Linked DNA regions of Homo sapiens. The protein of the gene in region 1 binds, or shares a complex with, the protein of each later gene. Links are inferred from orthologs where the notes say so. Each region holds a gene or a part of one and is shown on either strand. Other genes may lie near its edges.

Evidence for each region.
Region 2: the proteins of DIAPH1 (region 1) and CDC42 are in contact, whole or in part, in a crystal structure (PDB 3EG5), measured with the Mus musculus proteins. The link is inferred for Homo sapiens from one-to-one orthologs. Residues at the interface, in NP_031884.1 of Mus musculus: Met90, Asp93, Met94, Asn95, Leu96, Lys100, Pro103, Leu104, Lys107, Ile111, Met115, Gln118, Tyr119, Thr122, Ser133, Tyr139, Ser158, Arg160, Val161, Ser162, Leu163, Pro167, Val168, Val171, Arg210, Lys213, Ala214, Asn217, Asn218; in NP_033991.1 of Mus musculus: Val36, Phe37, Gln61, Glu62, Asp63, Tyr64, Asp65, Arg66, Leu67, Pro69, Leu70, Pro73, Glu95, Lys96, Pro99, Glu100, His103, His104.
Region 3: the proteins of DIAPH1 (region 1) and PFN2 are in contact, whole or in part, in a crystal structure (PDB 2V8F), measured with the Mus musculus proteins. The link is inferred for Homo sapiens from one-to-one orthologs. Residues at the interface, in NP_031884.1 of Mus musculus: Ile635, Pro636, Pro637, Pro638, Pro639, Pro640, Leu641; in NP_062283.1 of Mus musculus: Ala2, Gly3, Trp4, Ser6, Tyr7, Asn10, Ala28, Tyr30, Trp32, Arg108, Met131, Tyr134, Leu135, Ser138, Phe140.
Region 4: the proteins of DIAPH1 (region 1) and PPFIA3 are in contact, whole or in part, in a crystal structure (PDB 4UWX), measured with the Mus musculus proteins. The link is inferred for Homo sapiens from one-to-one orthologs. Residues at the interface, in NP_031884.1 of Mus musculus: Lys252, Ser255, Ala256, Ile259, Gln307, Asn310, Ala311, Thr314, Pro315, Ala316, Glu317, Arg322, Gln352, Cys354, Val355, Glu358, Gln359, Glu362; in NP_084017.2 of Mus musculus: Pro719, Arg720, Arg723, Leu724, Arg726, Met727, Ala728, Ala730, Leu731.

What each region holds. Positions count from the first base shown.
Region 1 is NC_000005.10:141,615,994-141,623,184, reverse strand, and holds the start of DIAPH1 (protein diaphanous homolog 1), read left to right. Parts: upstream 1-4,184; 5' UTR 4,185-4,270; coding exon 4,271-4,387; intron 4,388-4,888; exon of another isoform or gene 4,889-5,140; coding exon of another isoform or gene 5,141-5,191; intron 5,192-7,191. UniProt on the Homo sapiens protein: Actin nucleation and elongation factor required for the assembly of F-actin structures, such as actin cables and stress fibers. Binds to the barbed end of the actin filament and slows down actin polymerization and depolymerization.
Region 2 is NC_000001.11:22,083,709-22,090,738, reverse strand, and holds part of CDC42 (cell division control protein 42 homolog isoform 1 precursor), read right to left. Parts: intron 4,301-7,030; coding exon 4,191-4,300; intron 4,071-4,190; coding exon 3,873-4,070; intron 797-3,872; coding exon of another isoform or gene 707-796; exon of another isoform or gene 1-706. UniProt on the Homo sapiens protein: Plasma membrane-associated small GTPase which cycles between an active GTP-bound and an inactive GDP-bound state. In active state binds to a variety of effector proteins to regulate cellular responses. Involved in epithelial cell polarization processes.
Region 3 is NC_000003.12:149,964,404-149,967,925, forward strand, and holds the end of PFN2 (profilin-2), read right to left. Parts: intron 2,184-3,522; coding exon 2,086-2,183; 3' UTR 1,862-2,085; coding exon of another isoform or gene 1,764-1,861; 3' UTR 501-1,763; downstream 1-500. UniProt on the Homo sapiens protein: Binds to actin and affects the structure of the cytoskeleton. At high concentrations, profilin prevents the polymerization of actin, whereas it enhances it at low concentrations. By binding to PIP2, it inhibits the formation of IP3 and DG.
Region 4 is NC_000019.10:49,114,677-49,122,573, reverse strand, and holds the start of PPFIA3 (liprin-alpha-3), read right to left. Parts: upstream 3,031-7,897; 5' UTR 2,852-3,030; intron 1-2,851. Other genes in the region: putative uncharacterized protein C19orf73, read left to right, coding at 3,552-3,941; LIN7B (protein lin-7 homolog B), read right to left, coding at 4,201-4,222, 4,556-4,719, 6,102-6,311, 7,243-7,314, 7,607-7,725. UniProt on the Homo sapiens protein: May regulate the disassembly of focal adhesions. May localize receptor-like tyrosine phosphatases type 2A at specific sites on the plasma membrane, possibly regulating their interaction with the extracellular environment and their association with substrates.

The DNA.
Region 1 (7,191 bases):
TTAACACGGGAGGAATCTAAGGCTCAGAGAGTCTAAGTAACTTTCTTTCTTTCTTTTTTTTGAGACGGAGTTTCGCTCTTTTTGCCCAGGCTGGAGTGCAATGGCATGATCTCAGCTCACCACAACCTCTGCCTCCCGGGTTCAAGCGATTCTCCTGCCTTAGCCTCCCAAGTAGCTGGATTACAGGCATGAGCCTCCACGCCTGGCTAATTTTTTTTGTATTTTTAGAAGAGATGGGGTTTCTCCATGTTAGTCAGGCTGGTCTCGAACTCCTGACCTCAGGTGATCTGCCTGCCTCGGCCTCCCAAAGTGCTAGGATTACAGGCTACAGGTGTGAGCCACCGCCCCCGGCGAGACTTAAGTAACTTTCTGAAGGTCACATGGCTAGTTAAAGATCAGGGCTGAGATTCAACCTGATTCTCTGACTCCACACCTTTAACCCTGTGCACTTAGAAGTAACTGAGACATTGCTCACCATGCAGATAAGGCCTTTCCTGGCTTAGTGCCTCAGCTTCTCTTTGATGACTTTCTCAATTCTCTGTGTCCCAGAGAATACTTTTTCTTTTCTTTCTTTTTTTTTTTTGAGATGGAGTCTCACTCTGTTGCCAGGCTGGAGTGCAGTGGCTAATCCCGGCTCACTGCAACCTCCGCCTCCCAGGTTCAAGCGATTCTCCTGCCTCAGCCTCCTCAGTAGCTGAGATTACAGGCATGTGCCACCACACCCGGCTAACTTTAGTATTTTTAGTAGAGACGGGGTTTCACCATGTTGGCCAGGATGGTCTTGATCTCTTGACCTTGTGATCCACCTGCCTTGGCCTCCCAAAGTGCTGGGATTACAGGTGTGAGCTACCACGCCCGGCTTTTGAGAATACTTTTTCAAAAAGAAAGAAACCAATATTGAGTACCTGTTGGGCCCTGTTTTGCTTTCACATCCATTCTTTCACTATGGGTTTATAATACCACGTCACTCTTCTTAAAATTAAAACTCTCCTTTACCTTGCACTTAGAAGAAAATCCAAAATTTTGACTGTGGCTTAAAAAGGTCCTGCATGCTAGCCCTTACCTACATCCAGGATCTCATCTCTAACTACTCTCCTCCATGCACAGTGCTCCCGGCTGTCCTGGCCTCCTTGTTCTTACTGGAATACATCAGTCTCTTTCCATTTCATGACCTCTGTAGTTGGTTTTCTTGCAGCTTGGAATGGCCTTCCTGAAGTCTTTGCCTGCTTAGCTCCTCCTCAGACTTTAGGTCTTATGTCCCAATAGTCCTGTCTGAAATTTCACCCTTTTCCTCTCATCACCTTCAGTCCTATCACTTCATTTTATTAATTGTACTCTCCATCATCTGAAATTATTATATTTATTTACTTTGTTAGTTACTAGTCTCATTTATTAGGTAAGCTTTTTGAGGATAGACAACCTTGTCCAGCTTGTTACTCTACTGTATTGCTAAGGTTTATGACAGTGTCTGTATAGAGTAGTTCCTTAATGTTTATTTGATACGTGAATGGGTGAATGAATAGCAGTCTCTACCAACAAGAGGAGGAGTGGTTCTCAACGGGGCCTGAGAAATGGCTTTGGAAAAGGGTGCTGGGAGAAGATTAGAACTTAGAGTGAGATCCTGACCTCTCTCCCCTTGCTTTGCAGGCCAGAGGCACCCAATGAGTTCTATGATGGAGACCATGACAATGACAAGGAAAGCGATGTGGAGATTTAAGAGTGGCTTGGGATGCTGTGTCCCAAGGAATTTCTTTTCACCTCTTGGTTGGGCTGGAGGGAAAAGGAGTGGCTCCTAGAGTCCTGGGGGTCACCCCAGGGCTTTTGCTGACTCTGGGAAAGAGTCTGGAGACCACATTTGGTTCTCGAACCATCTACCTGCTTTTCCTCTCTCTCCCAAGGCCTGACAATGGTACCTATTAGGGATGAGATACAGACAAGGATAGCTATCTGGGACATTATTGGCAGTGGGCCCTGGAGGCCAGTCCCTAGCCCCCCTTGCCCCTTATTTCTTCCCTGCTTCCCTCGAACCCAGAGATTTTTGAGGGATGAACGGGTAGACAAGGACTGAGATTGCCTCTGACTTCCTCCTCCCCTGGGTTCTGACTTCTTCCTCCCCTTGCTTCCAGGGAAGATGAAGAGAGAGAGATTTGGAAGGGGCTCTGGCTCCCTAACACCTGAATCCCAGATGATGGGAAGTATGTTTTCAAGTGTGGGGAGGATATGAAAATGTTCTGTTCTCACTTTTGGCTTTATGTCCATTTTACCACTGTTTTTATCCAATAAACTAAGTCGGTATTTTTTGTACCTTTCGCCTTTCTAGGAATGTTAATTCTTGCTAGTTTCCTATTTATGAAAGGAGAGGGAAATGGGCATGATGATGCATGTAATAAAAGCATAGTTAACATTCATTCAGCACTTATCCTACGTTAGGCCCTGTGTATGTATTCTACATTTATTATTGTAAATATAAGAAGTTAATAGAGGATTTTGGTTAAGAGTTAGACAAACCTGGGCAGATTTGAGAGGAGTAGAAGATGACTTCAGGTTTTTGAATCTGGGTGTTTAGAGTAGTGATGCTAGTTGGTGAAGATACACTGAGATAAAACATGTTAAGTGCTTAGCACAGTGCCTGACAGAAGAAGTTGCCCATTATCTGTCTATGTGAAGAACAATGCTAAATACTGTAGTAGCCACAAACATGAACCTTTCTCTAGAAGAGTTTACATTCCAGTCAGTAGTATGATAAATATTGTAGCAGATACAGACTGATACAAGAAAGAGGACTGATAGATGGGTCACTTCCTCCCCTCCATTCTCTGATTCTGTCTGTTCTCAACACTAGCTTAGAAAGTAGCTTTTGGACTTTTTAGACAAAATGTCTGGAAAGCTCAGCACTAAGTCAAGTTTGAAGTATGGGATGGACAGCTCTATGTAACATTCTATCCGATCACCATCAGAAGGTCTGGACCACAAGAGAGATGAATGCCAAATTTAGGAGCCAGCCAGCTTGGCAGAGTCCCTGGTATATCTCAGGCCCTTGACTAGGTACTGGGGCTCTAGAGTAAGTAAGTCACTGACTCTGCCCTTCAGGAACTTATGCTTGAAATCTTGCTAGCTGTGGTCAAGAATATTCAGTCCATATTGTGAAGGCCGACTGGTAGCCACGTAACTGTCACACAAGGGACAGATGTAGCTGGGAGAATGGATGAAATTGCTTAGGGAGAAAGTCATGCTAGAAGAGCAAAGAATATACTCTTGGAGAATACTCATTCTTTTCACTCATGTTTGGTTTATGTCAGTGGGGAATCCTGGTTAAACATAGGGTTTGGCAGCAAATCAGACTAAGCTGGGTTTAAATTTTATATCAATTATGCGTTCTTGGGCAAGTCACTTCAACTCTCAAAAGTCCAAATTTACTATTTATAAAATGGTGAGGCTAGCAGAATCTATCACATGGGACTGTGGGGACTTAGAAAAATACATGTAGAGTGTTTGCCTAGTGCCTAGCAGAGAGCAAAGGGCATGGTTAAGTGGTAACTGTTATTGCTGTTTAGGCACATGTTGGCAATAATTAGTTTGTCCTGATTAGAAACAATTAGATGGTACCTAACCTGGAATTCGAACTAGGAAATTAAACTCCAGAGCGAGTCTGGTTTAGTCTAGTGCTTGCCCTGGACCGAGCTCTGTTCTTGCTACCTTGCTTTCAAAACATGGTGGCTATCACTATAATTTTTTTCATGTGTTCCATGGGTATTGCACACATTGAAAACTGCATTCTCTTGGAAAACCTGTCACTAATTTTCTGCCAGGATAATGGTCTCACGCGATTTTTGGTCTGGGATGTGAGAGGGTCCAGGCTGTCAGGCTGTACAGCCACGTGGGCGCTGCGTGGGAGCCAGAGGCCTGCGCTGCTCCAACCGCCAGGGGGCGGTGCTCTCCGCCGCGGCCGCGGAGAGCTGCACCGCCCACTCACCACCCCCCCCCACGTGGGTCCGAATGGTTAGGTCCGCTGGGCAGGTAGCGCGCTTCCGCGGCTTCCCTCCGCCCCTCTCCCTTCCCCCATTGGTAGGGGCTGCGGGTCCGGGCGGAAGTGGGGCAGGCGGGCGGGAGCGAGGCGTCGTCGTTGTATATTCATGAGGCGCGCGCAGCCCGGCATGCTAATGAGGCGGGGCGCGGCGGCTGGCTAAAGAGCGACTGGGCGGCGGCGGGCGCGGAGCTGCCAGGCGGGAGCGGCGTAGGCGCGGGGTCGCCGGCCAGCGTGAACCGGGACATGGAGCCGCCCGGCGGGAGCCTGGGGCCCGGCCGCGGGACCCGGGACAAGAAGAAGGGCCGGAGCCCAGATGAGCTGCCCTCGGCGGGCGGCGACGGCGGCAAATCTAAGAAATTTGTGAGTGTCCCTCCCATCCCGCTCCTGCCTGGCCCCGTAACCGCCCTCTGGACCCCTGCAGCCGGCCCCTGGGGCGCCTGCCCGGCTTTGGGGAGCCGCCCCCGCGCCTTCCTTCCTCGTTTCGCTCGGTCCGCAGCTCTGCAGCCCGACATCCTCTCCCTTCGGGACCTCGGGAAGCCCCGGAATCCCACCCGGCTCTTGCCCCGGCCACCTCGGGGCTTCCCTCGTTCCCCAGCCCTTACATTCTGCCCTCCCGCCCGCATATCCCCGGCCGGCTCTCAGCCCCGTCTCTCCCCTCTCAGCCTCACTTCCTTTCTTCTTCCTCCAGTACCCGAACACGCCTCCTCTTTTTTGGTCCCCTCTTCTGGGTCCATTTTCTCTTCTTAACCTTACACCTTTTTTGGTATTCTCGTATTTCCTTCTCCTAAAGGTCACTTCCTTCTCCATGATTCATCCTTTTTACCTGCTAACTTTCCTCCCGCCCAGTCCCCCGTGGGCCCTCCGCCCGGTGTCACTTGATAATCCTTCCCCTGAGGAATGTTACCTGACTTGAGCCCTACCCCCAACTCCTTCTTTGGACGTTTGTCCTTGCGATTACAGGAATGGGCTCCTGCCCAGGTCCTATGGTCACTGGGGCATGACGTTTATTTGTTTACCAGTATTCCTCTCTCCAGAGAACCTCTCTCTTTGCCCTGTTGCTTATCACTTTTCAGAGGATTAGAACTCTCATGATTGTGCCCTTCTTGACCTAGGATGGTGATAAACCTCTCCTGTGGGAAGAAAGTTGGACTGCGAGTTCAAGAAGTTTGTAATTGAATTGTTTTTTATACATTTCCCATGATAACCGTCTCCTCTACTCCTTTTCTACTGCCTCTTGTGCCCCAAGGCGACTATCGGCTTCCCTTTGCGTGCCTGTAGAAGAGTAAGCTTTCCTCAAGTGCCAGTTACTTTCAATCCGAGTGAAGGAATAGTGATATACATGTAACCCTATCATATTTCATTACCTTTTGCCCACACCAACGCCTCTCTCCAGGGAGCCGTTTGGTTGCTTTTTTGCTATAAAAGCTTTGTAAGATACGGGGCACTGTCCAGGAGAGGAAAAGTCTTGGATATTGATGATCATTATAATAGCTAGTTATAACTGTAGCTCTTTTGTCTTCTCTTCCAGGTATTTATGCCCTTACACTAGTGTATCTTTCTACTAAACAAATGGCTTGTAACTCTTAGTCCCACCTCCCAACATTTTGACCCAGCTCCACAAATTTGGGAAGAAAACTGATAAAGCGATGGAAACAGGAAGAAAATGTTGTTTTATGACCTAGAGGGTTGAGATGTTAACCCTGGAGGGTTAGATGTTTAATTCTAAATAGAATTAAAATAGTGACTCATCTCTTCCTATTTCTAGCAAGACCAAGTGCTCCTGGACTGCCCTTTCCAGTGATATCTGAGATGTCAGTAACCATCTGTTTTTATCTGGTGAACATCTTTTTTTCCCCCCCTAGAAATATAAGGTTAAGGGTATTGACACCCCCTCCTTCTTTGGTGACTAAAGCAGCATTTTTGTATGTTTCTTTAGGATAAGAATTGACCCCTCCCCCCCGTTAGCTTTCCTTCCAAAACTTAAGTTCTAGGGCTCATATTCCTTCTATTTCTGTATCTTTTTGTTTTGATTTTATTTCCATGAGTACTGTTTGACCTTCCTCACCCAAATTCCAGCTATTGCTGCTGACTTGTGGTGACCTCAGTGACTTGTTTTCATGTCTTGAGTAGAATTTTATATGTACTCTATTTTATCTAACAATTATTTCACGAACTTGTGAAGTCTACTATGTGTGTGGTACTGTAAGGTGAGAAACCTGAGGAAGCTCAACCCCTTTTCACCTGTCTTTTGGAATGTCCATGAAGTCTTCTATATGTTTAATGGATTTGGCTCAGGGTTGTAGGTATTTGCTTTAGAGAGGATGGAGCTGAACCAAGTTCTCTTTTCTTTCTGCGGTGTTAGTCTTAACCCTTAATCTGCTGAATTTTTAAAACTAAATAGCTCAGGTAATGAGGAAAATTGCATTAGTAGCTACGGAATTGGAAGGTTTCTAGGAAAGTAGTGCTGCTTAACCCTTTTATTGCCAAATGTAACCTATCTCAAGGCATCAGAATATTCTTTCTTCCTCTTGCTCCTTTTATGAGAACTCTGTGGAAATGAGAGATGAGGAGGAGCATTGCAATCCACTTCTCTTTGTGTCTGTGTATGTATACGTGGGTGGGTGGAGTGGGCGAGATTGCTGGTGTGCTTTTGATACCCGTGGCTTAGTTTTCTTGAACTATAGGCTAAAACTGAACTCAAAGGTCTTTCGCCGCCTCCACCTTTTCTAGAGTATGTGTCCTCTGGAACTCCATTAAGAATGTACTGTATAAAACTGCACTGGTTTGGACTAAGTGTGCCCGAAGGTTGTTTGCATTTGAGGGTTTATAATTCCTTTAGCTGCTACATACCTTTCCTGGCTTATGCAGGTTCTAAATACGGATTAACTGGTGAGAACACAGAGCTCACAAATTGTCTGAGATCTGCTCTTACCCTCTGAGGCATCTTGTGTGGAAAGGAGATGGACCCTCAGTTTAAAAGTGGTTGGGCATCATCTTTTAAAAACACATGATTGTTAGACGTGCTGACAGTGAGTGGCTGAAGCCAGGCTGCCTGGTATTACCCCTTGGTTCTTCATGAGTCTGTCTTCTCCTGGGCCATGAGCATACCCCTTCTCCGGCATTATTCCATTTCCTTTCACAAGTCCTTAAGATGAAGGAAAATA
Region 2 (7,030 bases), on another chromosome or scaffold:
AATAAAATCAGAAGCAGGAAAATATAAAGGTGGCAGCTTTACATCTCAGCATTAACAAACTGTAAGTCAACTGTTTAAATGGATGTTATTCTTAAAAGATAATGTAACAAATGAACTCATAAAGCAGTAGCAGATACATCAATATCTTCCCCACCCCAGACTGACAAATACTCCACTACAGCACAGACAGCCAAAGCAACAGCAACACAAAGTTTCACCGCACAAAGGAAAACCAGAAAAGAATCCTCCCTTCCCCATTACACTCTACTAGGTCACCCCTTTTCCATAAGGTTTGTCATGCAATTACAATTAACAATTGATCATAAGAGTAAAATGATGTTTGTGTTACTTTCTCCATCTAGAACTAAGATCTAGAAGTGTTAAAACTCTTGTTATTTTCTCCAAGAGGACATTCTTAAAGCCAGACCAAGTTCCCTTTTGCAATAGTAATCCAAACCAAAAAGCTCTGAGCATCAGGCAACTCAAGCAGCAGAACGTTAAAACAAGTCCAACTTGACTACTGATCACAAAAAATTTATATGATATTGCATTCTTGATCAAAAACTAATACAGAGGTTGCTCTAAGGTGGTGAGTAAAAAGACGCAGAGGCTTTCAAACAGGATGGTTTTATTCCTTTGTTTTTAAACGATCTTTCTACAGTAGTGGGACAGGAAGCAGCAGCAAAGAAGGGAAGGAGAAAACAGTTTAGAATATACAGCACTTCCTTTTGGGTTGAGTTTCCGGAGGCTCGAGGGCAGCTAGGATAGCCTCATCAAACACATTCTTCAGACCTCTCTACAAGACAGAGGGGAGGAGAGAGAATAGCAGCCAGGTTAGAGGATTAGAAAGACTAGCAGGTACAACAGCAGTCCGGATTAAATGAGCTGAATTCACAGAAGCAATGTGCCTTAAGAAAAACGCTAGAATGCTAGATCTTAAGCCCATTATAACCAGGAGAGTAGATAACTGACCAAAAACTTCACCTCAAGCAAGGTTAACTGAGCAGGAAAGCAATTTTTATTAAAATGCAATATGTTGACTTCTAACACATTTTGGAAATAAATCTATTACAATTTCAGGCTTATGTGAATTCAGCCCCTGAATAACTGAAGGACACAAATAGCAGACTAACAGGCATGCTATGTGTTTCTAGGTTCAATGACATATCTGAATGTGATTAATCAAGATTTCAGAGTAAACTGGTTTCCCAGAACGGAAAGGTTCAGACATTTAAAAAGTGTTAATTGTGCAACAGTACCAACTAGAAGGACTTTAAAGAACAGACTCTAAAAACAGCATACACTTCAGTTATTCAGCAATGTTATTAGAGCAAGTAACCACCACCCAAGTCATAAGAAAACAAAGAATGGGGTCCTAGAATGAGTTTTAGCAAGCAGTCCAGTGCTTTAAGATGTCTGCATGGGTATCAGAGCATAAAGCATGGAGTGAAAACGAAGAATATTCTCAGATCTTACGGGGATTAAGATACAGAAATACACTTACACCTCAGCCAGAAACTCCAACATGACAGTGTGACTCAGCATTGGTGGTACTTAGGACCCAGGTCTACAGACTCACCTAAAATCACCTAAATCTGAAGCCACAAGTTTACCACCCAAGGTTGTTTCACATGTTCTTTAGTTTGATCAGTTTGATCCCAAGTAAATATGTCCTAAAAGTCCCAGAACACAGCTCCAATTGTAAGTGCCAACCCCAGACCACCCCAAGTGTTCCCACCTCCACCCTGCCCCCATCCATGACATCCCACAGGACTGGTACCCACATGTCACATTAGACACAAAATAAATCAGAAACAGCAGTAAATTCTTTAAAAGCAGCAAAAGTTAAAAAGCCTTCCTCTTTCTACATCATTTACAAAGTAGAAATGCCACATAAAAGTTAAAATTCCACTGCAATTCTTTCTGCACATCTAGGAACCAACTCTGGCAGTAAAATATAAAAGGAAGGAAGGAGTACAGAAAGGGAAATATACTTTATAAGGAAAAAAAGAGGAGGAGGACTATTAGAAACTGGAGTGTATCCCTTAACAAGAAGGAATTCCTTTCTTGCTTACCATGGACGAAGATCAACAAATGCTCTATGAAACAAAACTAATCTTTGCTTGACCACCATCTGTTTATATTAAGACTTTAGTTTTAGAGGAATCAACAAACAGAATCTGTAAGCCTCAAAGTTCTAGCTCCCAAACACAACCACAGACCCCATTTTCTAACTTCCCCTCTTTTGACTTCTCCATACTTCAAACTCTGGTAAGAAAAATGTACCTGCTAAGACCTTTTAAACTTCATACTCTCTACAAACGGATTTACTATATACACCTGTTGATACTGTAAAAATCTTACATTAAAAGCATCCAATTATCTAAAGCATCACTAGTAACCTAAAAGTGAATCCACAGGGCCTATGTGTCTTCCCTCAAAGCAACCCATATCTAGAGAACAGAGGTATGCATCAGAAGCACACAGAATTAGTGTCTAACATGGACATGAGTGTTTCACACATGACTTTCCCTTGTCTCCCCCAATATACACACACAGGCACACTTTTCTGGGAATGTTACTAAAACACACAGAGAAGCACCAGGCATTTTTTAAAACTCTCAAAACAGTTGCTATGCATGAGAAGGTGTAAAATCTTCTAAACTTTTAAATAACTGCTTCTATAATAGCACTAAACTGCCCAAAAAAACGAGGATTAGAAGATTATGTTTAAATCATCTGATACTAGGCCTCGAAGTTATTTTGAGGGATATCCCAGTTAAGCATAAAAGTTTTATCTGTAAATATCCAACCAAGTACTAAACTTACTATTAAATTATGCACTAGGCCCTATAAACTAAATACCTAGTGCATATGTAATAAGTAATCATATATGCCATTTACCCTAGTATACACGTAGTTAAGAATCCAATAGTGTTTTTTAGAAACACAATAAAAATGAATGAATTACCTGAAAACATAAGCATAAATATAATGAGTTTAATATAATTATTAGAAACCTCCACCCTTCAATCTTGCCCTATTAGGCATGTCTGCTCAGTGTTCAAACTTCAAAGCACCAGTACCAGTAGAACATAAAACTTTTGTGCTAATTATTTCCATAACCTTTTCCTTTGCCCCCAGAACAGTACTCAAAGGACGGAATCAGCGATATCATGAAGGTGAAAAAGTTTAAACCATACACATCAGTTACAAGTCCCATTCCAAATACCCTAACATTGCTCCCTATCTTCAAAATCTGAGTTTCCCATCAAACTACAAAAGGAGTTCCAATTAAATCACTCAAAAACGGCCGGAATGCATGAGGAAGGAATACTTCCAAAAATATAGGAATAGGGACACTATATAAAGCACGCTTGAGAACTGTGGCAGAAATAGCCATGGCTGCCTTCTTTGACATTAAAGTCTCAATTATTATGACTAATTCCCTATCCTGGTTGAATTGCCCAAGAAACAGTATAGTATCAATTGTCAGAATTGGCAAGAAAAGATCAGACATATTCAGATGAAAATTTAAGTGTTTAGAAAAAAAAAAAATCATTCACATCGTCTCTTGCAAGTTTATGCTTATCTGAACCTTTCCTGTAAGGTTTTTGTTTTAACACAACCCTGACCACTACGAATCATTCAGTACAATACGAGAGCTTACCAACACAAGGGGTTTAGGAACTAATAATATTCTCCAAAAAACACAGAGGCCTCTAACAAAAGAACATACAATATGAAGCTGTTCATATTCTTGCTGGGCATCTTTGAGCACTGCTGATCACTGTTAGAAATAACTCCTGTATCCTAATGCTCTAATAAATGACTCGACCATAAATACACATGGGGTTTCATGCCATTCTTACCTGTGTAAGTGCAGAACACTCCACATACTTGACAGCCTTCAGGTCACGGGCCAGCTTTTCAGCAGTCTCTGGAGTGATAGGCTTCTGTTTGTTCTTGGCAAGTTTCTCAATAGTAGAGGGGTCATCTCTGAGATCAATTTGAGTCCCAACAAGCAAGAAAGGAGTCTTTGGACAGTGGTGAGTTATCTCAGGCACCCACTAAAAAAAGGTATTTTAAAATACACCTTTGTTAATCAACAAGCCTCTAATGCTATTTATAACAGGTCAGTAGAAATTCTGAGATGATCTTCTTAGGGCAAGAGTATCTGATCAGCTTACCTTTTCTTTCACGTTTTCAAATGAAGATGGAGAGACCACTGAAAAACAGACTAGAAATACATCTGTTTGTGGATAACTCAGCGGTCGTAATCTGTCATAATCCTCTTGCCCTAGAAAAAAGAAAAATATTGGAGAGAATTCAGCAACTGAATCTTGGTGTCCTCAAAGTGTTAAAAGCATGCTGGTCATTACTCAAAAAGCAACTTACTTATCTAATAAAATGTATGGCTTTGTAATATAATATGTGGGCAATATTCTCAATCAGCTAATTCTACAAACTTCAAGCACTCAGAACAGCAATGAATTTACTATTATGTTATTTGCTTTTATTACCAGTTTGTGGTGTTCAATCTTTGTGTCCATTAGAAACCCAATAATAAATGTAATAATAAACTCTTGCTACAGAAATGGTTAAAAATCAATCCTTGTAATCCCAGCACTTTGGGAGGCCGAGACAGGCGGATCACCTGAGGTCAGGAGTTCAAGACCAGCCTGGCCAACATGATGAAGCCTCATCTCTACTAAAAATATAAAAATTAGCCGGGTGTGGTGGTGCACATCTGTAATCCCAGCTACTTGGAAGGCTGAGGCAGAAGAATCACGTGAACCCAGAAGGCGGAGGTTGCAGTGAGCCGAGATGGCATCACTGTACTCCAGTCTGGGTGACAGAGTGAGACTCCATCTCAGATATGGTAAAGAAACAATCACAGTGAAATCATCTAAGGAAAGAAAAACCTCACTGAAACCCAGATGACAAAATCCACTGCCCATCATGACTACAAACAGAGGTTCACATATTTAGTTAATGCGTGTATATAAGACCGGTATCTGAAACTGATAAAGCCTAGAAAACAAATTTAGCAAGAATTAATCGATACTCAAAATAATAAAAATACTTAGAATTAACTTAATCAGAGGCAAAAGACTTGGATAACAAAAAAATTCAAAACTGCTGAAAGAAATTAAAGAAGACATAAATAAATGGAAACACATCCCACATTCATGAACTGGAAGACTTAATATTGTTGACATGTCAACATTATCCAAAGCAACCTACAGACTCAATGCAATCCCTATCAAAATCCCAACAAGGGATAGTAATCTTGAAACAAGGGACAATAGACAAAATAATCTTGAAAAAGAATAAAGCTGAAGCACTCCCATTTCCTGATTTCAAAACTTACTACAAGGCTACAATAATCAAAACAGTGCGGTATTGGCATAGGGAGATATATAAGACAATGGAATAGACTAGAGAACCCAGAAATAAACCCTTACATATGTGGGCAAATGATTTTTCTTTTTTTTTTTTTTTTTTAGACAGAGTCTCACTCTATCACCCAGGCTGGAGTGCAGTGGCACAATCTCGGCTCACTGCAACCTCCACCTCCCCAGTTCAAGAGACTCTCCTGCCTCCACCTTCTGAGTAGCTGGGACTATAGGCACACACCACCGCACCAGGCTAATTTTTGTATTTTTAGTAGACACAGGGTTTCACCATGTTGGCCAGGCTGGTCTTAAACTTCTGACCTCAGGTGATCTGCCCACCTCAGCCTCCCAAAGTGCTAAGATTACAGGTGTGAGCCACCGTGCCTAGCCTAGCTCAAATAATTTTTGATAAGGGTGCCAAGACCATTCAGTGGTAAAAGGACTCTTCAATAAATGGTGCTGAGAAAATGACATATTCACAAGCAAAAGACAAAGATGAAACCTTACCTAATACTATATACTAAAATTAACTCAAAATGGATAAAAGGTCTAAATGTTAGACCTAAAACTTTAAAACTCCCAGAAAACATAGGGCAAAAGATTCAGGTGGACTTGGCAATAATTTGTTTGGATATCACACCAAACCACCAAAAAATAGACAAACTTCATGAAGCTGTGAAAATTTTATACATCAGAAAATAGTATCAACAGAATAAAAACGCAACCCACAAAATAGGAAAAAATATATGCAAATCGTGTATGTGATAAGAGATTAATACCCGGAATCTACAAAGAACTCCTAAAACTTACCCCAAAAAAAAAATCCCAATTCAAAAATGGGCAAAGAACTTGATTAAACAGACCTTTCTCCAAAGATATATAAATGGCCATAAGATGCTCAACATCACTAATCATTAAGGAAATACAAATCAAAACCACAATTAGATACCACCTCACACTAATTAGGATGGCTACAATTAAAAAAAAAAAAAAAAAAAAAAAAACAGGAAATAAGTGTCGAACAGAAGAATGTGACTATATCAAACCCCACGTACTGTTGGTAGGAATATAAAATGGGACAGCCACTGTGGAAAACAATACGGAGGTTCCTCAAAAAAATTAAAAACATGATCCAACAATTCCACTTCTGGGTATATACCCCAAAAGAACTGAAAGCAGGGTGTCAACAAGGTATCTGTATACCCATGTTGATAGCAACATTATTCAAAATAGCTAAAACGTGGAAGCAATTCATAGCACCAGTATTAAAACTGGAACCCAAACATCCATCAACTTGTTAATGGATAAACAAAACTGTGATATATTCATAGAACAGAATAACACTCGGCAATCAAAAGAAACAACTACCAATACACACAACATGGACAACTCTCACAAACATTATGCTATGTAAAAATAGTCACACAAAAGACTACATATTGTATGGTTCCATTTATATGAAACCCTAGAAAAGCAAAACAGTAGAAACAAAGAAAGCAGATCAGTGGTTGCCTGGAACCAGGTCAAGGGACAGGGCTGACTGCAAAGGGAACCCAGAAATAAACACTCACATATATGGTCAAATAATTTTTGATAAGGGTGCCAACACCATTCAGTGGTAAAAGAACTCA
Region 3 (3,522 bases), on another chromosome or scaffold:
ATGCAAAAGCATCCCAATTATCTTATATGCTGCCTAAGGAATGTCTTCTGCTCTTATGTGGGAGGGCCCCAGCTGGCTGACTTCAGCCTGCCAACACAGCTTCCAAATCTAAAGTCATATGACATTTCAATACAGAAAAATCCACAATAGTGCAGAAACCCTTCTTGGTACTCCCTTTACTATTAGATTTCACATCTAGAAACCAGCAAGAAGAGGAAAATACTTATTTTCTAGCAGATAAGTCAGTTGCTTCTCACATACTCCTGAAGATGAGCCTGAAATGACTAAAAGCTATGTGTAACAGATCAGAGTCCATTAAAAAGAAATTCCCAGGCACTAATTTTATCTGTAATATTACTTGAAGTAGGCCATCACCTAATATTGCTGAAGTTTTATGCTTGCAGCAGACTTTGGCCTATTCTGTGTATTCCCACTTTGTCAAAAATCAACTTTTAACAGTTTATATAAACAATGTATATAAACAACAGGAGCCTAGAGTATTTGGTTGGAATAAATTTATTTCATCTGTCTGTAAACAAGGTGTTTAATAGTTATGGCATTTTTTTAAATGCATATTAAATCAGATGAGTTAGACTGTATCCCAGATGTAACAAAGTGCAGGGAAAGAAATGGACAAATCAGCAACAAGATTTGTTTTTAAATCTGTACATTATCCACAAGGCCCAAACAATAGAAGCAAATACTAGAATGTCCCTAAAGTAGTGCCATTCGAAAGAAACCCTTAATAGGTCAGTTAAAATCCATCTCACAATAGCAACAGTTCATTTTAACAATAGTATGGCACAGAATACATATGAAAAAAATTCATCACAAGACAGCCAAGTCCACAATAATGCAACTTCATATAAAAACTCAAGCTGCAAATAAAAATTGGTCCTATGAAGAACAAACTGGACACACTCCAGATGGTTATGTTGGGATACCTAATGTCCATAATGGCAGCCTTTTACAATTTTACTAAAGAGTAGAGCTGGTGTGCAAAGAAAAAGGAAGAAAAATCTGAGCTATTGCAATGATGGAATGTCCCTGGGGATTCAATCAGTATGGTTACTGTAAGGTCATGGGAGGAAGTGCTTTTTGCTCTTGTTTTGCCATTGCACTCTTCATATGTCCTGTAGACACTATGAATAAAGGTTTGTCTCTGCTCAAGTGCAACAACAATACTAAAAGCAAACTACTGCAGCTCTCAATAGCTCATCAACAAAAGGGATTTTAATTGGTTAAAAAAAAACAGGCACTGCATAAAAAAAGATGGAAGCAAACCAAATGCCTATGTGCGAAGGGAGGGGGGGCGGGAAAAAGAGAAGAGTGAAGGAATGATGCATGCACTTTTTCCTCCCAACCATGCGCTACAAAAGGAAGACTAAATGAGCCAAGTAAATGCTCAAAGTGCTGAAAAGACACTGATCAGAGATTGTACAACCGGCACCTTGCTTAATATTAACTTATTTTAGTAATCAATATCCCATTAATTGCTAAGACAAAGTGATGCCCAACTTGGCATGCCCCCTCCCCCCAATTTCAAGGTATCATGCAAATCATTATTGTGCTGCAATTATGTTGCCAGATAAGGGTTGGTTACATACAGTGGTTAACATACAAATGATCCATTGGGCAAACAGGAATCATGACATTAGAAAATAGGTAAAGAAAAATTAGCTACCATCTACAGTTTGGTAGCATTGTGACCATAATTAGGGTTGTTGATGAAGACAGTTGCTAGGTAGATGGGGAGAGGCTGCTTACACATCAGACCTCCTCAGGTATAAAGCGAGTTCATATGCTTTCTTGTTAAGTGTGCCTCCGTGGACACCTTCCTTTCCCATGACTATAACCAATGCTGGAGTACACAAGGAAACAAAACAAAAGTGAACAGAATTATTTTGGGGGGGGAGGGCAGAAAGAAAGACACCTTTCCCCACCAACAGAGGGATACAAAGGAGACACAGGTTCATACCCCATCACCCTGCATTGCTAATAAAATTTCCAGAATTAAGACTTAAGCTTATAGCTAGGAAAGTTTAAGAGCAATTTTCCCCTAATACTTAACAGTCTGCCTAGCAGCTAGAACCCAGAGTCTCTCAAGTATTTTGCCATTGAGTATGCCTTCTTATTCAATCCGCCTCCATGGACCCCTTCTTTTCCCATTACAAAGACCAAGACTGAAAGAGAAAGAAGAAAAGTGTTTCAAAAGAAGTGTTAATCAAGAAAGTCACATAAGTTTTAGCAGACAGAACCCGGATTAATAAGTTAACATTAAGTTAGTTTTCCATGAACTGCCAAGCACTGAAGTCAAGTAGGTTTCCAAAAAGAACTTTCAAACTAGTAATATACTAAACAGAAAATAGTAAACTTGACTGCATCTTGGAAGCCAATCAATGCAAGCAAAAGTTCTATACAACTATCTTTACACTAGCTACAGAAAAAAAAAAAAGTGACCATTTGTCTTCTATTTTAGGGCAAAAAAATTCTGGCTGATGTCAAGTACATGTTATTACTTGCCCCCAAAATATAAACTTAATAAACCTGGGGAGTTACTTACTTACAAACTCTCCCCAAATTTTAACATGCTTGATAAGTTTAAACTATTAAGTTTTACCAGTGAGGCTAAATGTATCTATTATTTCCAGAGGAAAATGAAGATCAAATTTTAAGTAGCATACTCAGTATCATTCAGAAAAGGCCAAATTAAATTATTTAAGGTGTTTGCTTACTGATAACTTCACCGTAGTAGCCTTGTTTTTAATTGCGTCTAAAAAAATAGGTTTACGATTTCTAATTGCTCTTCTATGATGCAATTCAAAGGTGTATAACCCAAAATATATGTATATGTCAAATTTTATATTCACTACCACTAGATGTCAGTAGTGCTGTATCGTATAAAATATTCTGGTTTTTTGTCTTGTGTTTGACGCTTCTTTTCAGCGTATAGTGCAGCTAAGGTTTAAAGAGATTTGTCACTATTTCAAAGTCATCTAATTTTCTTATAAATCCTTATAAACATCAACTCACACCAGAATACGAGTAACTTTTAGGATAATCACAGGGAGCTGGTAGAGCCATAGCATTAATTATAACTCACAGCAGCTTCAACTCCCCTCACATGGTAGAGCTGTTATTAAAATTAGATGTGCCAAGTCAGCTATGTGAGGCTACAGAAGCACTCTCTATTTACAAAATATTCGTATGCGTTAACACATTAAAATGTATTTGTAAATCAATTAGATGTCATAATAAAACTCAATTTCAAAAGTTTATTTTGAAAAAGTAGGGAGACTTCTTTAGTGCAATTAAGAGTTTCTATAATGCTGACAACAGTCTGGAGACACCTGAATTTCTGGACCAAGTATACAAACTAAATGTAATTTCCTACTTTTCAAATCTAAGTCTCAGACACAATCTTTGAAAATATTTCAGTGAATGGACAACTTACTCCAAAATCCTCATCTAATTATCTTTTCCCCAGCAAAGTTCCTAACTGAAAAATGAACGGATGTTAAT
Region 4 (7,897 bases), on another chromosome or scaffold:
ATCTTAGAAGTTAGATTGCTCCTGGGAAGAGAATGGAATCTAGAACAACGTGGCTGAAACCTGGAACACACTTGAAATGAACATTTAGCAAAGAAGGAAGGACTTGTTGTTAGAACTTTGGAACATGTCTGAGGATATGGTGGGATCAGAATCTGGCTCAGGGGTCTTATCTAAATATATGAAAAAAACAAAGGCTGTGCACAGTGGCTCACGCCTATAATCCCAGCACTTTGGGAGGCCGAGGCAGGTGATCACCTGAGGTCGGGAACTCGAGACTAGTCTGACCAACATGGAGAAACCCCCATCTCTACTAAAAATACAAAAAATTAGCCGGGCATGGTGGTAGGCGCCTGTAATCCCAGCTACTCAGGAGGCTGAGGCAGGAGAATCGCTTGAACGCGGGAGGCAGAGGTTGTGGTGAGCCAAGATCGCAGCATTGCACTCCAGCCTGAGCAACAAGAGTGAAACTCCGTCTCAAAAAAAAAAAAAAAAAAATTGGCATCTGGCCTAGAACTCAGACCATGCCTGGAATGAAAATGGAACACAGAACAGACATCAGCTGGGAGTGTTCTGGTGTTTAGAAGGAATCTAGAACATGGAGCAATGCAAGAGCACATGTGCGACAAGAAATGTGGCCCGGCCAGGCGCGATGGCCATGCCTGTAATCCCAGCACTTTTGGGAGCCAACAGAGAAGGATCCCTTGAGCCTAGGAGTTTCAGACCAGTCTGGGCAACATGGCGAAACCCCCATCTCTACAAAAAATAAATAAATAAATAAATAAATAAAATTTTTTTTTGAGACAGAGTTTCGCTCTTGTCGTTCAGGCTGGAGTGCAGTGGCACGATCTCAGCTCAATGCAACCTCCGCCTCCGGGGTTCAAACGACTCTCCTGCCTCAGCCTCCTGAGTAGCTGGGATTACAGGCATGTGCCACCACGCCTGGCTAATTTTGTATTTTTAGTAGAGACAGGGTTTCTCCATGTTGGCCAGGCTGGTCTCAAAATCCTGACCTCAGGTGATCCGCCCGCTTCAGCCTCCCAAAGTGCTGGGATTACCGGCATGAGCCACCGCGCCTGGCCAAAAAAATTTTTTTTTAATTAGCCAGGCCTGGTGGTGAGTGCTTGTGGTCCCAGCTACTCAGGCGGCTAAGGTGGGAAGATGACCTGAGCCTAGGAGGTGGAGGCTGCAGTGAGCTGTGATTGTGCCAGTGCACTCCAGCCTGGGCAACAGAGACCTTGTCTCAAAATAAATAAATAAATAAATAGAAAGAAAGAAATTTGTATGGCAGCAGGTAGCTTCTAGATCTCCTTATGAGCCCAGGCCACAGAATACATCTGGAGGAGGTGATGTGTGTTCGGCTCATTGGCCTGGGAGAGTGTACTTGGAGAAGGGGAACTCATCTGAGCCTCAGGGGGCAATGGAGTGCTAGAAACATCTCAACAAGCTGCATCTTAGGGGAAAGAGTAGAGAGTCCTGAAGCCCGCCACCTGGGGTGACATGAGGATGAGACAGGGGTTTGGTAGGGCCACAGGAGATGTGAAGTTGATGGGGCAGAGTGATGAGGCTGTGAAGACCTGGTTCCTAAAAGTGAGACCTGAGAAACTAGATACCTGCTGGGGAGGGCAGTGGACAGAGCTGGGAGCCTGGACTCCTGAATCCTTGTGGAGGTAAATGATGGGGGATTGGAAGGTGAGAGCCTGAGGTCTTGTTTGGAGAGAGGGTTGAGGCAGACAGCCTCAGTAAAAGCTGGTGGGCAGTACGGAAGCTGGGGTCTGAACTCCTGGGTCCCTGAGGGGATAGGAGACTGGGACCAAGACATTTAGGTCCCCAAGTGGGAGTGTGAACAGAAGTCAGAGAACTGCATTGAGAATCACATTCCGGGTCCCCCAAAGGAAAGGAGTCATGGCGCCTGAGTCCCTCGGGGAGCAGATGCTGGGTGCCAGGAGGCTAAGTCTGTGTGTCTGCAGGGCACAGCGGGGTTCTAAGCAGAGCAAACGCTGGGGAACAGGATTCCTAGGTGCTGACGGGGTGAGGGCTACCACCTGGGGCCAGCAGAGGTGTAGACACGGACAGGCTTCCCGAACGGGGTGGGAGCTGCATCCCCGGGTGCCATGGTCCCCACGGCGACCAGAATAGGAAAATTCAGAAGCCCTGGATCCTCAGGGAGCAGCTGGAGTCCCAGGAACCTGGGGTGCCGAGGACGGGGCCACGAGCCTGGCCGGCAGAACCCAGAGGCTGGGGCGCCCTGGTCGGGGAGGGCCCGGGTATTCCCGGGTCAAAGGCGCGGCGGGGGGATCCCCGCGCCGCCTGCGCCCCCTCCCTGGTGGCGGCGGCAGGAGGTGGGGGGAGGCGAGGCTGCCGAGCGCGCTGACCATGGACAGCTCCAGAGCGGGCCTGTGTCCAGGGCGGCCGCCGAGCCTGCCTGGACCGTGGGACGCAGCCGGCTGTGCAAGCCCGAGGCTGGCGACGGGAGACGGAGTGCGCGAAGCGGGGACGATGCGGACGCGTCTGGGGAGTCTGGCACCGCCGCGGCGGGTGTCTGGAGCTCCCAGGACAGGGTCAGGAAGGGGGATCTAGGCTCTAGGAGGGGTCCCGGGGCCGGACCGGGAAATCCAAGCTCCTGGGCCCTGGAGGAGGCGCGAGGCGGCGGTGCGCCCGGGATTCTAGGGTTCGGTCGGGGACTCTGGGCGCCGGGAGGGGCACGCCTGAGTCCCCGGGGTTGGGGTGTGAAATCTGGGCTCGGGGGTCCCCTGGGATGAGGAAGGGAATCCGGGATCTCGGGGAGGCGGGGGAGGCTCGCCAAGGGGTCCCCAGGGTGGGCGCTGCCAGGAGGGCCGGGCCGGGCTCTTACCTGCCTGGTCCGCGGCGGCTGCGGGCGGAGCTGGGCTGCAGGAGGGACGTGGGGTGGAGTGGGGGGGCCGGGCGGGGCCCCTGGCAGCGGCCGGGGCCCGGCTCTGTCGCTTCGGAGCCCTGGAGCCCTGTCTCCGACGCTCGCGCGGGCTCCGCGTCTCTGGCTCCGGCTTGGGCGCTGGGGACCCCCCTCCCCCTCACGCTCTCACTGCCTTCTACCCCCAAAATAGCCCCCTGCCCCTGTCACCGATCAGCCTCCCCCCGCGAGGCCGCAGCCGCCAGATCCAGGGGTGCCCACCAGCGCCCCCCAAATCCCACCTTCCCCCCAAAAAAATTCCTCCTCCCTCCCCCTCCCCCCCCACGGCTCCCGGGCGGTCGTGGCCCCTTTAACAGGAGACTGACAGACGGCGAAGAGCGGCCAATGGGAGAGAGCGTCGGCGCCGGCCGGCGACTAGACCCCGCCTCCACACCGGCCGGGAGGGGTCGCGCGGGCGGAGAGCGAGAGGCGGGGCATAAGGCGCGTCGACCAATAGGCACGCGGCGTGAGGCGGCTGGGGCGGGAGGCGGAGCCCGGCAGGGGGATGATGTCACCTGGAGCGAGTAGCGCGCGGCGTGGAACGCGAGTCGCGACCCCGGCTCCCGGCAGTGGCGCGCACTAGCCCTCGCGCCGCACGGGACACGAGGGCTGGGCGGGCAGCGGGATGAGGCTAAAGGTTGGATTTCAAGGCGGGGGCTGCTTCCGGAAAGACGCGCTGTGTTTGGAAGGTGGAGTGAGCGCCCGGTGGGCGAGGGCACCTCATTCTGCACCCCTGCGCCCGCCTCGGGAACTGCACGCGGCACCCCCACCCGCGACTCCCACGCAGACAGTAGTGCGGCCTGCAGGGTTCCCCCGGCGGACGAGGCTAATGGTTCGCTCCGCCCCGCCCACACAGAGGCCGCCCACTGGCTCCGGCTGCGTTTCAGGACTCTGGAGGAAGGGACTTGGCCTTCGCCCTCAGACGCTCTTAAGGGTAGGCAGCGTTGTCCTCAGTTCTGCCCCAGCACTCAGACCCAGACTGGGTCCCTGCCTCCGCCCTCCGCCCTCGGACTAGTCTCTTGGAAGCCGGCCTGTCTCCGCCTTCAGACCTAGGGAGAGGTCTTAACCTCTGTTCTCAGACTCTGGAAAAGGCTTCTCAACGGCTTGGCCTGACCTCAGCTCCTCGCATTCCCTCCACATCTCAAGACACCAACCCAGGGATGCAGGACAGACACACAGACACTCAGTGAGGGTCAAATATCTTTAAATAAAGTGCCAGGAACAATAAATACTGTACAGGAAGAGAGTGCACGTGAACGTCCAGATCTGTGGTTTCAACCTCGAGACTCCAAGGACCTGCAAGGGGGGTGGACAAGGGACCCGGGATCAGGGAGGCTCCGGGTAGACAAGAGGGGCAGGACTGGGGTTGCAGAGGCAAGGGCCCAGGTAAGTGGGCTGAGGGATCCCAGCCACAGTAGGTTCCGTATCTTGGGATGGAAGGAAGCTAAGGGCTCCCCAGGGGATTTGGCCAAACTAGCCTGGGGTGAGAGCCTGGGCCAAGGGTCAAGGGTCAGGATCCCAGAGGAGGGGCCAGGGCTGGAAGATCCAGGAAGCACTGGCCTGGTTTGGGAGCCTGGGGTTAAAGGGAGCCCGTGGAGGCCCCAGGGGTGTGGTGACCCAGGGGCTCACGAGTAGCTCTGATGCTGTTGGCGCCGGCGGGCAGAGCGCATCTTCTCGAACCGGGCCTCCATCTCCTCCAGCACTCGCGGTGTGTAACGGACAACCAGCTTCACCGAGCCCTGGGCCGCCTTCAGCAGCTCCACCGCCTTCTCATGCTGCTCACCCTCAACGCTCTGCAGGGCCCAACACAGACAGCTGAGCCTGGGGCCCGCTGCCCTCGTCCAGCCCCCACTGGGAGATGGGACCCACTGCTAGTGAGCCTGGTGCCAGCCCTGAGATGTCAATGCCTCATGTCCTCCTCGTGGGAGTCATTAACTCCTGGTTCAGTGTCCTCCTCCAAAACCTCCCAGGATTCCCATGTCAGGGACAGCCCCGTGTTCCCTCAGTCCCTGGCCAAACGTCCAGACCCATCTTTGTGGCCTCCCTGCCCACAGCCCACTAATGTCCGCCCGCCTTGACTCCCTCTTTTTTGTCCCCACAGCCCTGGGCCAGCTCAGGCCTTGTCCTCTTTTCTCTGGACTCTTACCCCAGCCTCCTCCCTGGCCTGGCTTCTAATCTCTCCCCTCAGTTCATCTCCCATAGAGTCCCAGAGTGGTCCTTCTGCACCTGCAAGCTGAGTTTATCCCTGGCTCACCCCTCCCATAGCTCCCCAGCACCCATGGGACAAAGTCCCAGCTTCTCAGGCTGGCACTCAGGTCCTGTATGGCTGACCCCAGCCATCTCTCCAGTTATGCTTCCCTCAACTCTAACCACAGTGAGTTTTGTTTTTTTTTTTTTTTTTTGAGAGGGAGTCTCACTCTGTCACCCACGCTGGAGTGCAGTGGTGCTATCTCAGCTCACTGCAACCTCTGCCTCCCAGGTTCAAGCGATTCTCCTGCCTCACCCTCCCAAGTAGCTGGGATTACAGGTGCCTGCCACCACACCTGGCTAATTTTTGTATTTTTAGTAGAGATGGGATTTCACCATGTTGGCCAGGCTGGTCTTGAACTCCTGACCTCAAGTGATCCACGTGCCTCAGCCTCCCAAAGTGCTGGGATTACAGGTGTGAGCCACCGCACCCAGCCTAACCACAGTGATTTTAATTACCTGCATGCCCCAGACCTCCATCAGAACTAAGCCCTTTCTTTTCAGCTCAGAGGTATGCCAAGTCAGTATCCTTATCTACAGTACCCTCAGCAGGAACACCCTGTACCTTGTTTGCCTGGAGAACTCCTACTCATCCTTTAACACCCAACCCAAATGTTCCTTACTCTGCAAAACCTTCCTGTATCTATGCTGGCCTGGTGCCACATCTGGGCTGTCACAATACTTTGCACTTCCTCATTATTATGTCTCTGGATTAGGACTATTTCAGCCGGGGCCTACTGCCCTCCCCAGAGAGAGAAGGTTGAGTGTAGGGAGCTGAGGCCAACATCTCTCAGAGTCTGTAACATTGCCCAGCACAGGGCTAGCCATACAGACAACACTCAGTGTGTGTTGAGTGAATGTCAAAAGCAGGGGCTATGCTACGTTAGACAGACTGTGTCCCCCAGTCCTGCCTCAGCCCTCCACTCACCACACCGTTCACCGACAACAGTTGATCCCCACGCTTGAGGCCTCCATGGCGGTCAGCCACACCCCCTGGGATGACCCGGGAGATGTAGATGGGCGAGTTTTGCTCTTTGCCACCCATGATGTTGAAGCCTAGGCCCTCATCCGTCTTGGGTAGCTCCACTACCCTGGGATGTGCGTGGCCCTCGCTGGCTGTGAAGGCAGCCACTGTGGCCTGGGAGAGAGAAAGCGACTGAAGATGAGGGCCCCTTCCAGGTAGGCATGAAAGCTGGGGTGGGGGATGTGGACCGAGGACAGCGATTTAGCCTGGGTTACTATCCCCAAGCATGGGACACTTGTCATGGCACAATGCACGATCCCCCTGTAATGACTGTGCGTCTCTTTCTGTTCACTTGCAAGAGAAAGTGTCCATTTGGTGTGTGTCTTGAATACCCCATACTTGCCAATCTTACTTTTTTTTTTTTTTTGAGATGAAGTCTCACTCTGTTGCCCAGGCTGGAGTGCAATGGCATGATCTCGGCTCACTGCAACCTCGGCCTCCTGGGTTCAAGCGATTCTCCTGTCTCAGCCTCCGGAGTTGTAATCCAGCTGGGATTACAGGCACTCGCCACCACGCTCGGCTTTTTCTTTCTTTTTTTTTTTTTTTGTATTTCTGTGGAGACGGGGTTTCACCATGTTGGCCAGGCTGGTCTCGAACTCCTGACCTCAACTGATCCACCTGCCTCGGCCTCCCAAAGTGTTGGGATTACAGGCGTGAGCCACCGTGCCTGGCCTCAATCTTACTTTTAAACAGAGGAAAGCCAGGCCTGGAGGGAGATCTGAGCCTCCGGACAGCAGCAAGAGGTAGCAGCATCTAACTATTGTGCAGTGAGAGGTCAGAGCGCCATGAGTTTCCTGGTTTGCACTGTACAGATGTTGAAGGTTATCTTCTACCAACCATGCCATACTGTTTCCATTTGCAGTTGCTAAAGATGCCTTAGTATGACATTTAAGTTAAAAATGTGCGATTATTTACTAATAGTAAGGTGGCACATAGATTTAGCAAAAATCATGAGGGAGGAAACAGAAATGACTGGCATGAAGGAGATATTGAGTTCGACTAGGCAGTTAAATAGACACCAGGAGCAATGGGGTGCGGGGCCCACCTTGGCTGTGGCATGGGCTCGGATCTCGGCGCTGCCGGTGATGTCCAGCGTGTCATAAAGCTGCTCATACACCTGGGTGAGGAGGCAGCGGCATCAGGGAGTCGCCAGCTCCTCCAGCCCTAGACGCAGGAGTTCAGGCCTCTAGACCCTCTCCCGCTACCACGCAAGGATCCGCCCCGCCCCCGCAACAGAAGGCCGAGAAAACTACAACTCCCGAAGAACCCCTGAGCTGAAGCGTTGGCACCCCAAGGCGGGCCGCCTCGGGAGCTGCCGGGAGGCGTAGTCTCCGGGCTCGGGACAAGCAGGAGGAGGAGGAGGAGGACGACGGCCACCAGCTCGCGCCCCTGCGCCGCGCGCCCCTCACCTCTCGGATAGCGGAGCAGAAGCGGCTCTGCAGAACTCGCTGGAGGGCCTGCAGCTTCTGCGGCGGCAGCTCCCCGCTGCGCTGGAGCCGCTCGAGGAGCTCAACCGCCCGGGACACGTCTGCGGGGCGGGGGCGGGGCGCAGAAACCCCGAGTGTCAGAGACCCCGAGACGCAGAGAAGCAAGGAGAGCGGCGGAGTGAGGCCGAGCGCACAGTCCGGGGAGGACGGCCGAAGCCTAGTCGGACACCCCGCAGAGTCCAGGGTGGCGCAGGAGAGACTGCCACCAGCGGC